2 linked regions of the Homo sapiens genome follow. The protein of the gene in region 1 interacts with the protein of each later gene in a biochemical or structural test. Each region holds a gene or a part of one and is shown in the gene's direction. Other genes may lie near its edges. The genes, in order: KCNE4 and KCND2.

The links.
Region 2: the proteins of KCNE4 (region 1) and KCND2 form a complex in vitro, tested with the Homo sapiens proteins (one study listed by BioGRID).

Annotation. Positions count from the first base shown.
Region 1 is NC_000002.12:223,048,048-223,055,255, forward strand, and holds the start of KCNE4 (potassium voltage-gated channel subfamily E member 4), read left to right. Parts: upstream 1-4,142; 5' UTR 4,143-4,227; intron 4,228-4,760; 5' UTR 4,761-4,783; coding exon 4,784-5,296; 3' UTR 5,297-7,208. UniProt on the Homo sapiens protein: Ancillary protein that functions as a regulatory subunit of the voltage-gated potassium (Kv) channel complex composed of pore-forming and potassium-conducting alpha subunits and of regulatory beta subunits.
Region 2 is NC_000007.14:120,745,021-120,750,903, forward strand, and holds the end of KCND2 (A-type voltage-gated potassium channel KCND2), read left to right. Parts: intron 1-759; coding exon 760-1,007; intron 1,008-2,660; coding exon 2,661-2,838; 3' UTR 2,839-5,317; downstream 5,318-5,883. UniProt on the Homo sapiens protein: Voltage-gated potassium channel that mediates transmembrane potassium transport in excitable membranes, primarily in the brain. Mediates the major part of the dendritic A-type current I(SA) in brain neurons.

The DNA of each region.
Region 1 (7,208 bases):
AGGCCTCAGGAAACTTACAGTCATGGCGGAAGGCAAAGGAGAAGCAGGTACCTTCTTTACAGGGTGGCAGGATGGAGTGCGTGCAAGCAAAGGAAATGCCAGACGCTTATAAAACCATCAGGTCTCGTGAGACTCAGTCACTATCATGAGAGCAGCATGGGGGAAACAGCCCCCATGATTCAATTACCTCCACCTGGTCCCACCTTTGACACGTGAGGATTACAATTCGAGGTGAGATTTGGGTGGGGACACAGAGCCAAACCATATCAGGCTGTATATGTAGGCAGAGAAACTACTGTACTATGGACAACATAGGTATACGGTAAGAGTATTACTGCTTCACTGATAACTTCTAGAACATGCTGAGGTTGGTGCAGCCTCCAGTACTTAAAATAATATGAATTCAGAAAAAGACAACTTGTAGTTCCACGTGTGTATTTATGTGTGAGTATCTAGTTATGTCAGAATTCACATTTTTTTTAAAAAAAAAGTTTTATGAAGACTCAAAAGAAGTTGGAAAAATGTCCATCTTTCACTTCCTACTCTTTCTCAGTTTCTTTTTGTTTTCCATTCAGTGAGACAAAAGGTAGTGGAAAAAGAATGGGTTTTGGAGTTGCATAGATCTGGGGTCAAGTACTGACTGTACTGCTAGTGATTTGACCTGGAGCAACTTTGCCTCTTTGACTCTTTGACTTTCAGTTTCCTTATCTATGAAATGGTTGTAATAATACCTGACCTCACAGGACTTATGTGTACTTGGTATATGATAGACACTAAGCTAGATTTGAACTGCAGTGTATCTTAGACTCATTTAAAATACAAGTTTAAAATGGATTTATCAAAACAGAATAATATCGATGCAAAGATAGACAGATAGATCAAAGGAACAGAATGAAGAGTTAAGAAATAGACCTGCTTATATAAGGTTAATTGATTTTCAACAAAGTTTCCAAGATAATTTTAAATAGGAAAAGGAGTCTTTTCAACAAATGATGCTGGAGCAATTGGACATCCATAAGCAAAACAAAAACAAACAACCCCTCCCCAAAATCCTTGACCTATATCTTACATTTTAGACTAAAATTAACTTGAAATGTATCATAGACCTAAATGTAAGGCTGAAACCATAAAACTTCTAGAAGCAAAACAGGAGAAAATCCTCATGACTGGGTTAAGCAAATATTTCTTTGATAGGATTCAAACAGCACAACCAAAAACATTTAAAATAAATTGGACTTCATCAGAATTAGATATGTTTGCTCCTGAAAAGACACTGTTCAGGAAATGGAAATGCTAGCCGAAATTGATTTATTTCTTTAACATTGCTGTCTCCTAAAACTGAGGCCCGGGGTAGATATAATTAATAATTCTTGTGCAGTCCCATCCTCTCCCGACAGAGTGCACTTTCTAGATGTACCCTCTCTCCCTCATTCTTTATGCCATTATTCAGTGCCATCATTCTCGCAATCCCTGTCATGAGTGAGGGCTGGGAAGAAGATTGAGCTATGCATTTTGAAGTTGGAATTCCCTTCTCTTAAATTCCATTCCTGGGAGTGACAGACAGGGGAAGGAGCAGTGATAAAAAGTCTGGAGTTAAAAGTCTGGAGATGGGCACACACATGACAGGAGGCAACCTGAAGCCCTTGGGAGCAACAGCGTACTCCTAACAATGACAACTAAACACAGGCACTGAGCATGTGCATTTGGCCAGACATGGTGCTTTCTTTGCATCATTTCATTGAACTATTTTATTCTGTTCTGTTCTATTCTATTCTATTCTATTCTATTCTATTCTATTTATTTAGAGATCTCGCTCTGTCACCCAGGCTGGAGTGTAGTGGCATGTTCAGACCTCATTGCAGCCTTGAACTCCTGGTCTCGAGTGATCCTCCCACCCCAGCCTCCCAAGTAGCTGGGACTACAGGCACTCGCCACCAGGCCTAGTTAATTTTTGTATTTTTTTGTAGAGATGGGGTCTCACTGTGTTGCCCACGCTGGTCTCAAACACCTGGGTTCAAGTGATTCATCCACCTCAGCCTCTTCAAGCATTGGGATTACTGAACTAAGACACTGCAGTTGGCCTCGTTTAACTCTAGTAGAAATATCCATGCAGGAAGTATGTGGGAATCGGGGCAGCAGGGACTCCAAGCAGGCACCCCAGAATTTCTTCTGGGCTGTTCCTTCCCTGACTCCTGCAATTAGTCCTGCTTTTCCTTTGGCTCTGACTTGCTTCGTCCTTTGGAATTCATTCTCGATGTTTCCCCACACTCATCTCTTTTCTTGGTTGTATTCCCTTGGGACTGTTGGCTCAGGTTTGGGGATTTATTATGTTTAAAACTTCAGCCTCTGTTTGGCTTCCTGGCACCAGGCTTTGTACTTCCTGCTCCTTGAATCTGGTAACTCCTATCCCCACCTCCTTTCTGCCTACTCAAAGCTTCCAGTCTTTGGTGTTGGACAATCCCTGGATGATGACCAATCTCGTATGTCCTAAGGTATACAATAAAAAATACCAGGGTCAACAATCAACAGGCATCTCTTTCTTGGGCCCATCTTGTTCTAGTGTCCCAGACATTCCAGTGTAGGCTTAGATATAGATGGAAGTGTTCTAGTGTTTATGATGGACACCTGTTGAAAAGACCAAGTCTACCATGGCTGAGGTAGCTATGGAGGGTTTTACGTATTAACACAATGGTGAGGGTATCTTTACTGGTGTGAGCACAGTTCCACTGTATGGATGATCGTGATGCTGGAGTGGTCGATGGTTGGTACCTCCAGTGCCAGCTGGGGATTTATGGATGAACACAGGTGAGTAGTCAAGTGGGAAAAATGGCAGCATTCAGTTCATCTTCCTATTCTTCCTCCAGGTGTCTTCTTAGAATCAGGATCAGGTGCAAACCCAGGGGGGTTCCTGTAGCAGCAGTGAAAATTCCAGTGCCTAAGCTATATATGTTCAAGCAGGTCAGGTGGATGTCGCATGCGTCAGTTTGACTACAGCAGAACCATGAGAGATGTTTCCTTTAGAGTTGGCCCACAAGACAGTCTGGCTGCAATCCACAGGCCACAGACAACTGGAGGGAGTGGATCTCTCCCAGTTTCCTTCCACTTAGCATGAAAGCCTCAGAATAAGCAGCCCAGGGAGCAGAGAGACTGACATTAAAGCCTGCAATTCCTCTTCCAATTTTGATCACAGCAGCCATTTAAACACAGGGTCTACCGAGGTTTAAAAAACTTGAACTGTGCTTAGTTGCACTCTGAAATAGTCCTGCTCCTCCCCTGACCTACGAGAGACAGCAAAGAGACGTGTCAATAGCCTCCGCATGAGGCTTCAGAGGAGCAGCTGTGTATGGCAGGACGGAACAAAACCTGCCCATAGTATCTTTTACGACAACATGTTTCCACTTAATGCAGACCACTGAAAAGAATGTGGGAGCTTTTAAAAAAAAATTATTATAAACATAGGTTTGTGACCTTGATGTGGAAGGCAGCTAGAATCTCTGCTTTTAGAGGGCTAAGCAACACCAGGCAGCCTTCAATCTTAGAAGGGTTAAGCTGAAAGGGTCTCAAAAGGTCACGTGGTTTATATAATCCTACCTGCAGAAGACCCCCCCCCCCGCCAGGCACAACGATTTTACAGACGAGGAATGTGAGGTGCGGAGAGGTTAAGGAAGGATTTATCTTATTTGCATAAGGAGTGGAAGAACTGAAACCGAAGCCCCAGTTCCTTGACTGTAAATCCCGCACTTGCTTCCAACTGTCTTTCATCCAGATTATGGGATTCAGCTGCCTCTGAAAACCTGTAGCCCAATAATGGTTATTCCCCAGGAGCCGCGCGAAGCATGAGCTAATTTTCAGTGAGCGCGGACTTTGGGGTAACGGTTCCAGCACAGCACATCCCTTTCTCCTCTTTTCACTCATCGTCACCGCTACCTGAAAACCCTGGCCGGGTGCTGGGGCTTGAGGAGCAGTTCCCACTTCCCAGTCTTTTTCACTTTTCACAGCTGCAAAGTTCAGGGAGTTGAACTGCAGTGCTTTCAGTTCACTGCTCACTCTGCCACGATCAATCTCTGTTGTAAATTTTCCTCCCAGAGCACGTGACGATGCACTTCTTGACTATATATCCCAACTGCAGCAGCGGAGTTGTCAGAGCGCAGAGCCGGACAGAGCAGAAGAACCCTCTTGGACTGGACGATTTGGGAATTCAAAACTTGGGACAAACTGTCAGCCTTGGTAAGTCAGCAAGGCTACACTTTGCTTTCAGAAACATTTGAAAGAGGGACATTTTTGCCAATTAATAGATGAATTTTTTTCCTTTATTTTCTTCCTGCTTTTCTTTGTTCTAAGGAAACATTGTTTTGAATTTAAAATAGTTTGGTTTTGGAAACACAATGTAAACTTTGTTTCTGCTCAGTTAAAATACGTTTCCCAGTTTTAAAGATACTATTTACTGTATGCTCCTGTCTTACATTGATTTTTTTTTTAATCAAAGTAATACTGCTCACTACAAACAGGACAAATGTGTACACTAAAAAAAAAAAAAAAAGTCCTTCTTACTTTTCCCAGTGAACCTTCCCGGGCTTCTCTCCCGTGCACTCCAAGCCCTCATAGCTCACTCTTGTCAGCTGTTTGGCGAACCCTCTTATGCTATTTCTTTCATGCACTTTTAAGCTTTTTTGGTATTGCAGTTCCACAAACCTCGTGCTCCCCCACCTCCCTGTGCCCAGGACCTGGGGGAGAGTTCTAACCTGCGGCTTTTTCCCCAGCCCCTGCTGTGGAGGCAGCCTCAATGCTGAAAATGGAGCCTCTGAACAGCACGCACCCCGGCACCGCCGCCTCCAGCAGCCCCCTGGAGTCCCGTGCGGCCGGCGGCGGCAGCGGCAATGGCAACGAGTACTTCTACATTCTGGTTGTCATGTCCTTCTACGGCATTTTCTTGATCGGAATCATGCTGGGCTACATGAAATCCAAGAGGCGGGAGAAGAAGTCCAGCCTCCTGCTGCTGTACAAAGACGAGGAGCGGCTCTGGGGGGAGGCCATGAAGCCGCTGCCTGTGGTGTCGGGCCTGAGGTCGGTGCAGGTGCCCCTGATGCTGAACATGCTGCAGGAGAGCGTGGCGCCCGCGCTGTCCTGCACCCTCTGTTCCATGGAAGGGGACAGCGTGAGCTCCGAGTCCTCCTCCCCGGACGTGCACCTCACCATTCAGGAGGAGGGGGCAGACGATGAGCTGGAGGAGACCTCGGAGACGCCCCTCAACGAGAGCAGCGAAGGGTCCTCGGAGAACATCCATCAGAATTCCTAGCACCCCCGGGACCCCTGCCGGTGGCTCCATCAGCCAGCAACCTTAGAGAGAGGAAAGACAGTTTTCAAGTGTCTGGTTTCACTTTCACAGTGCGGCTGCCACTTTGAAGAGACCCTTGGTAAACCCCTGATTCGGGGTGGGGTGGGGGACTAGGCTCAGCCGGAACCAGCACCTCCAAGGAGTCCGGGAGGTGCCTGTGGTTTGCACCCACCACTGAAAAAGCCGCGGAGATGCGCAGCGCGTACACTGACTTTGGGGCCTGGGTGTTGGGGTTCTGATCAGAATTTGGCGGGATGATATGTTTGCCATTTTCTCACTGGATGCCCTGGGTAGCTCCTGCAGGGTCTGCCTGTTCCCAGGGCTGCCGAATGCTTAGGACACGCTGAGAGACTAGTTGTGATTTGCTATTTTGCCTAGAGCTTTGTCCTTCTAGATCTGATTGGCTGTAAGTATCTCTACTGTGTACCTGTGGCATTCCTTCACAGTGGGTTACAAGCTTCTTTTGGATTAGAGGGGGATTTTTGATGGGAGAAAGCTGGAGATCTGAACCCAGCCCATTTGCACACTATAAGAAAAAAAAGTAACTTTTAAACCTGTTAACATTGGCCGGGGTTATAAGAGATGATCTTCTATTTTGACCTTTTGTCTAACTTATGACCTTGAACTCTGACCTGTGACCATGCAGCATCACATGATGGCATGACGTTCTTTGGATCAGAAGAGCTTCCCCAGAATCTAACCTGCACTCCCGATGGTGGTTCAGGAGACTCTTCCTGATCTTTCTAGAAGGGGTAAAGTGGGGTTGAACAAGGCCAAGCCGTTAGCTCTGCTGCTGCTCAGTTTCCCAGCCTAGTTTTCTGAGCTGGGAGAGGACATAATGTGGTATTTCGTCACGTAGCTGAGACCTAGAAGGGCATACTCAGGCGGAGATTGCACAAAGCTGGGCTCCAAGTTCTGTGCTTCCTGATCCCGAGCCCTGACACTCATTTGCTGTGTGGTCCCGGGCATGTCATCAAGAAGCTCGCTGTCTGCATGAGGCTCCCGACGATCTCCATCCCCAGGGGGTTGGGAGGATGTCTTTAGATTTTAGGACTCTGTGATAAATATTCCACAGCCTGGTGTGAGGAAGCTTGGACCAAATGCTTCCCCTTTGGCCGGTTAGTCTGAACAAGGATCTGCTGATTTAAAGGAGCAGTTGGAGATTCAGAACACATATAACTGGGGAATTCAGGGCAAGCTACCAACCCAGCCCTGCTGTAGTTTTCCCAGGACTGAAGGAAAGAGGCAGACACCACATTCTCCTCTGCAAAGTTCTCTGGAGAATGTGTGATGTTAACACTCCCAGCTAAGGGAAAGCAAAGTCTAAAGGAAAACACACAGGAATGCTTCCAATGTCTCCAAGTATTCCTGTGGTCAACAGTTTCGCAGATCCGTTAGGCCCTTAAAGACAAGGAGGAAGTAAAAGGTCAAATTTAAATCTATTTAAAAAAACTTTTAAAAAAATTATTTATTTATTATTATTTTTTATTTTTAAGACAGAATCTCGCTCTGTTGCCCAGGCTGGAGTGCAGTGGTGCAATCTTGGCTCACTGCAACCTCCACCTCCTGGGTTTCAGCGATTCTCCTGCCTCAGCCTCCTGAGTAGCTGGGATTACAGGCGCCTGCCACCACGCCCAGCTAATTTTTTGATTTTTAGTAGAGATGGGGTTTCGCCATTTTGGCCAGGCTGGTCTCAAACTCCTGGCCTTAAATGATCCTCCCACCTCGGCCTCCCAAAGTGCTGGGATTACAGGCATGAGCCACTGCACCCGGCCACTTTTTTTTTTTTTAAAGAAAAATGCTCTGCATGGATTGGAGACACAGCAATAACTACTGTTGCCATGGAAGGGTTAACAGTGTAGGAGCTGGTTTA
Region 2 (5,883 bases), on another chromosome or scaffold:
GGCTGGAAGTTAGGAAATAGTGACGGAAAAACCCCAAATGCATACAGAGATCATGAGTACAGCCAGTGATGCCAGTGATGTATTACGAAGATTACAAAAAAGGCCACAAAAGTTCAATGCTAATCCCTTCTGGGTCGAACACAGAGTGACACATTCGGCAGACAATTATATTTTACTTATGTAACGAATAAGTCATATTTTTCTGTACTGGGCATTTTTAGAGGAACATATAAAGAAATGGATAGTGTCTTAGGGGTCTCATTTTCTAATTTAGAAATGTTTTCACTCCCATGTGAAAAGATTTGCTAATATATAACAGACAATCTAACTTGGGGCATCCTATTAAAATAATCTATTTTCCATAACTTCAACCTTTTTAAAAAATAAAGTCAGTGGGAATTTCTAATTTCCCTGTGGGTTTTATCTATATGCATTTTTTAGGTTTTTTTTTTCCTTATCATATACCTTCCAGATTTTATGTTTAAATAAATAAATGATATTTCAAGATAAAGTTAGTCTATAAAGGGACACTAAATCAGCCTACAGATGTCAATCTCTAGGTTTAACTACAGAGATAGTTCCACATAAATGCCAAAAAGAAGTGGTTTTGATGTCAATCTTTATGAAAATGGTTTTATTTAACCATTGTATCAAGTCTAACTATACTTGGGCAGATTTGAGCTTTAAAAATAAAGCTATGTATTTCGTTTTTAAAAATGTGCTTCTCTGTTTCTTCATTTACTTACAACTGTGGAACAGAATCACGAGTTTGTGGACGAACAAGTCTTTGAAGAAAGCTGCATGGAAGTTGCAACTGTTAATCGTCCTTCAAGTCACAGTCCTTCACTGTCTTCACAACAAGGAGTCACCAGCACCTGCTGTTCACGACGACACAAAAAAACTTTTCGCATCCCAAATGCCAATGTATCAGGAAGCCATCAAGGTAGTATACAAGAACTCAGCACGATTCAGATCAGATGTGTGGAGAGAACACCTCTGTCTAACAGGTACCTGAGATTAATCTGTGTTGTCTACACACCTGTGCTGGTTCCCAGGGTGTGTCTTCTGCACTCATGTTGTCACTTACATGGCATCTAAATCCCTAGCTCCTATGGTTCAGGAAGAGACAAAAATGGTAGCGTAACAAGTAGGAAAATGGTTCTGCTTGCATATCCATTAAGGGTTAAAAATAGTGGTTATATCAGTATTAAAAGAGTCGAAAGAAGAAGAGATGATTGAGTGCACACAAATGTGTTTTTCTCTCTTCTGTTCCACAACCTTTTCTTATTTGGGCAAGGACTTTTATACTCAGGAGTCTCTTATATATTCAATAGTCTGAAATGATGGTGGACACTACTAAAAGAGTCAAATGAAATTGAGATCAACATGGCTAAAAATTATTGAACAGCATGTAAAAATATACAAACACACTGTCTGTAACAGTAAAAATGAAAACTTTGCCTACATAAGTCATTTCTATCAATATATAATTTTGATCAGAAAGGTATTTTTGGCCATATCAAACACAAAATCAACATAATACAAAAAATAAGTGAAGTACTAAAATTGTTTGCCTCTGGTTAGTTTATGAACAAATTAAGTAAAACTTCCATATTGATATATTTCCTTTGCTTTTCCTTATTCACTGTTTTTACCACAAATGTGTAAAAATAAAAAGTTGTACATTTAAACAATATATGTCATTAAAAATCAGTTTCTGCCAAAATAATTTTATTCTGTTTTCAAATTGAACAGCATATATTGTTAGAGTGAGAGTCTGTAAATTCAGTCCTCTTCTTTGTTGGCATTCAGAAGTCTTTGTTGAAATCTGGATGAGATTCTGAATTCAGGTGATGTTGATTTACATAAATTGGATGTCTCTGGGACTAGAAAATTAAAATTAGGAGCCATAAGACTTCTATCTTCAAGATATTTTAGCTTTGCAGTTTTATATCCTTTATAAAGTGAAGTCGACAATGGAAAATTATCTAGCAAGAAAATCTTAGGACATAAACATCTTAATTATGTTTTCCATGAAAATAAAATAATCAGTTTCAAGCTTCTGTGTATATCCTTCTCTCTCATTTCCCTTTTATCCCCTTCCCCACATAGAGTATACAATTCATCCAATAATACCATTTGGGAGCTTGAAGTGTTAGATAGTAATAGATAATTTTTTTATTTCTGTAATATGTGATCATCATTAAGTTCAGAGGTTTGAGGGCATTATATATCCCAAAAAGACATGAAAATAAAAATATTCTGTGGTCAAAGGAATTAAGAAATCAATGTGATATGGCTCTTTCATAGTGGTTTCTCAAACCTCTCAGAGGTCTGTCTTAAATAAAACTTCTTTGCTCAGCCCAGGCTGTCCAAATCTTACTTGAAGCTCTTTCTTTCTTACATTTTTTTATAATACATTTAGTTTGATAAATACTTGATGGAACCAAGTCAAACTGTCTTTTAGAAATTTATTTAATGTTAATTACTATGTTCATCTTTAACATAGATTAAGATTTGGTGTTTCATATTTTTAATTATAATAACTTTCCTTAGACAATTAAAATATTTTTATAAGCATTACAACACATATTCTTCAGTTGTATGAAAAACATTTTAAGTAAACAACTTACTTTCCTAAATATTTTTTTTTCTATCAGCCGATCCAGTTTAAATGCCAAAATGGAAGAGTGTGTTAAACTAAACTGTGAACAACCTTATGTGACTACAGCAATAATAAGCATCCCAACACCTCCAGTAACCACACCAGAAGGAGACGATAGGCCAGAATCCCCTGAGTACTCAGGAGGAAATATTGTCAGAGTTTCTGCTTTGTAAGACAATTGGAATAAGGTCTAAGAGAATTCGAGCCCTGGCTGTGAAAAGAATCTCAACATAGAAGAAAGAAGAAACAATAAATATTCTGCAGATTAATGCAGCAAAGAAAGAAGGTTGGTAGTGAAACACAAAGCTTCCAATCTTAAGGATGTGAATAAAACCACCAAATGGCATTTCTAGACAGTTTGACCTGTTATACAGAGTAATATTCTGTGGCCCTTTGACTTTGTGAATGAGCACAATGAAATGCCGCCTACTGATGCTTCTTATGATCAGAACTCTTTTTTAATAAAATAAATAACATAAATCGTTGAACATAATGTTCCAGTTGAATGCAAAACAAAAAAAATATGGAAAACATTTTGATAAAATTTTTTCCTGTTAAAACCATGAACATTGGCTATGATGAAGATTATTACATATGAAAAAAAAACTCACACAACATATTTGTATTGACTGAAGGAAACCATCATAATGCATGCTAGAATTCTTTGAAGCAGTGATCTCAGTTTCCTTATGTTGTCTTCAGAATAGGCATGATAAACTATAATTGTAGAAAGGGGTAATTTCTGTGCACTTACAACAAGCTGAGTGTTCATGTTCCATGGTGGGCTGTGCAAATAAACTCCTTTTAGACCTGCAGTATTTCTCATGGGGATGCTCATTAGTAAATCTAAAGTGTTCAGATAGTTCAGTATTCATTATCGTTTAACTTTGCACCTAGATACTGTTACAACTGCAATAATTTGTTGTACAACTGTTGTATCAGGAATCAGGATTTTTTTGTTGTTGTACTTTCCAGATCCTTATAGATACGGTAAGAGCCACATTCGTAGAAAAACTTCTGGTGTGGCCAGGTTTTAGGTAACTTTTTAATCCAAAACTATTGTGCCATAAATGTTTTTCAGTAATATTTTTTGGTCCACTGTATTCCTGTGACACAGTGCATTATCTGTTCTTGTATTTCTATAGCACCTCTCTATTGGGTTTATCATCATCAACAAGACTACTGTTTACTGTAGTTCAAGTGACTTTCCTACTTTTGTATTTCCAAAAAAAATTATCTTGTAAGTAGCTTGTCATCAATCCCCTTGTCGAAAACTAGAAAAAAAGGAGTTGACCCATATAAATTATCTCTAACGTCTTTGTTGTTTATGGAAAAGCCCAGATACTGGATATATCACTATGTATTTTATGAACAGAATTGACTGGGACTAATATCACAGGATCAATCATCTCAGAATCTTACTTGATGCATTATTTATTTTGCTTTAGATCTTGAATACATTTTGAGAATAACTAATGTGGATTGAAATGTAGAGATACACTGGAGTGCTTTATTTAGCAATATTTGATGAAAGCATGCTTTCTACGCCATTCAGGAAGGCAGCACAAATTTATCTCAGAAAGGTTCCTGTGTATTGCAAGGTACAATTTTCTCCAATAAATCAGGAGAACAGGAGTTTGATGATGCAAAGTTGATCTCTGTACATTTAAGTGAAAAGTCTTTATAACTTTTCACCCTTAAAATATTTCAGCAGACATGTCTGCACATGACAGTGTAAAAAAGTTTAATGTCAAATGCAAAGTTTTTATTCATTCCAAGCCACCACTGTAAGGAATAAAGCTTAGCTTCTGTACATGGAAAGAGCTAATAATTATCCCTCTGTCAGAGATGAGATTTTTAAATGCTTATGATATTTAATCATAAAAAGGGATTAATCCAACCATTTTCTAGTAAAGCCAGAAATTCTTGCTTCCCATTTCTAGAATAGTTTCTAGAACAGTGCTATGCACATATTAGATCTTAATAAACATTTGCTGAGTGAAAGTAAGATAAACTCAACTATCTCTTGGGAAGAACTGGCTTCATTCCTAGTACATCTTTTAAAAAGTTACTAATTTTCCAGCAGTACAAATATTAACAATTATATTAACACCTGCCTCATGTCAGTTTATGCTTCTAGAGCAATGTCTAGTGAAACTTATCTGATGGCATTTATTGAAAACCTTCTAAAAAGTAGACTAAGGAAACCATAATCAGAATTACTATGTCTTTTGATTCCCAATGAGAAGTTCTATTTTCATGTTCTTAATATTACATACAAGAAAATGCAGTTAGGTTATTTCAATTGACAATTCTGCCTCCTCTTTTGATTTATCACTTACCCAAAATTATTAATTTTATTAGGCTTTTGGAAAAGAAAAAAAACTTTTTGATGTTTTAGGTGATTTAAAAATATACCGTGTTGGTGGTGAATGACTATTGATGACTGTGTTAAGTGCATCTGTATTGTAAGTGAAATGTAATTATTTCTGTGTACCATATGGAGTAACTAAGGTCATTGTTTTTGACAATTTTGTTTGAAATTCATATATCTTATTTCAAAGGATAGCATAATATCTGCATTATGCTGGAAAAAAATAGACCTTTGGAGAATACTTAAATAAAACATGTGCATGCTTGAACAGGACAAAATGTTGACTGTTGCCCTATTTTCTTAGATTTCATTCCTTTCCCAAAATTAGGATATGCCACACTCATAATACACATGTTGGAGGACCTTGTGAGACATACAACTCAAAGGACACAGCAATTGAAAGTAATGCTTAAATCTCATCTGAATGGGTGGAGACAGTAGCTTTTGCTAGTAATGGGAATTAAGGCAGGGACTTTAACAGAAAAGATAGTATCAATTAAGGAAAGCCAGTCCCTGAACCTTATATACTTCTTAAACACCACTACTTGCATTAAGCAGAGAAGCTCAGGGGTAATGGTTTTGGTCAGAACTTAAATAAATTCTTAATCAAAGGCTTTATTCTACCTAGGAAAGCGGGGTGATTTATTTGCCTAGCCATTTGTGTGCATGTATGTGTATATGTAGATATAAATTTGTTCATACACATATACATAGATTTTCATTCATTTTTAATATGCAACCACTAATGGTTTCTCTTAATATCTTGAAAGGGCTAAAAAGCAAGAAAATGTTAAGAGTTTATAGAAGAAGGAAAAAGACACAAAGGAAATTATTTAGTAGAAAG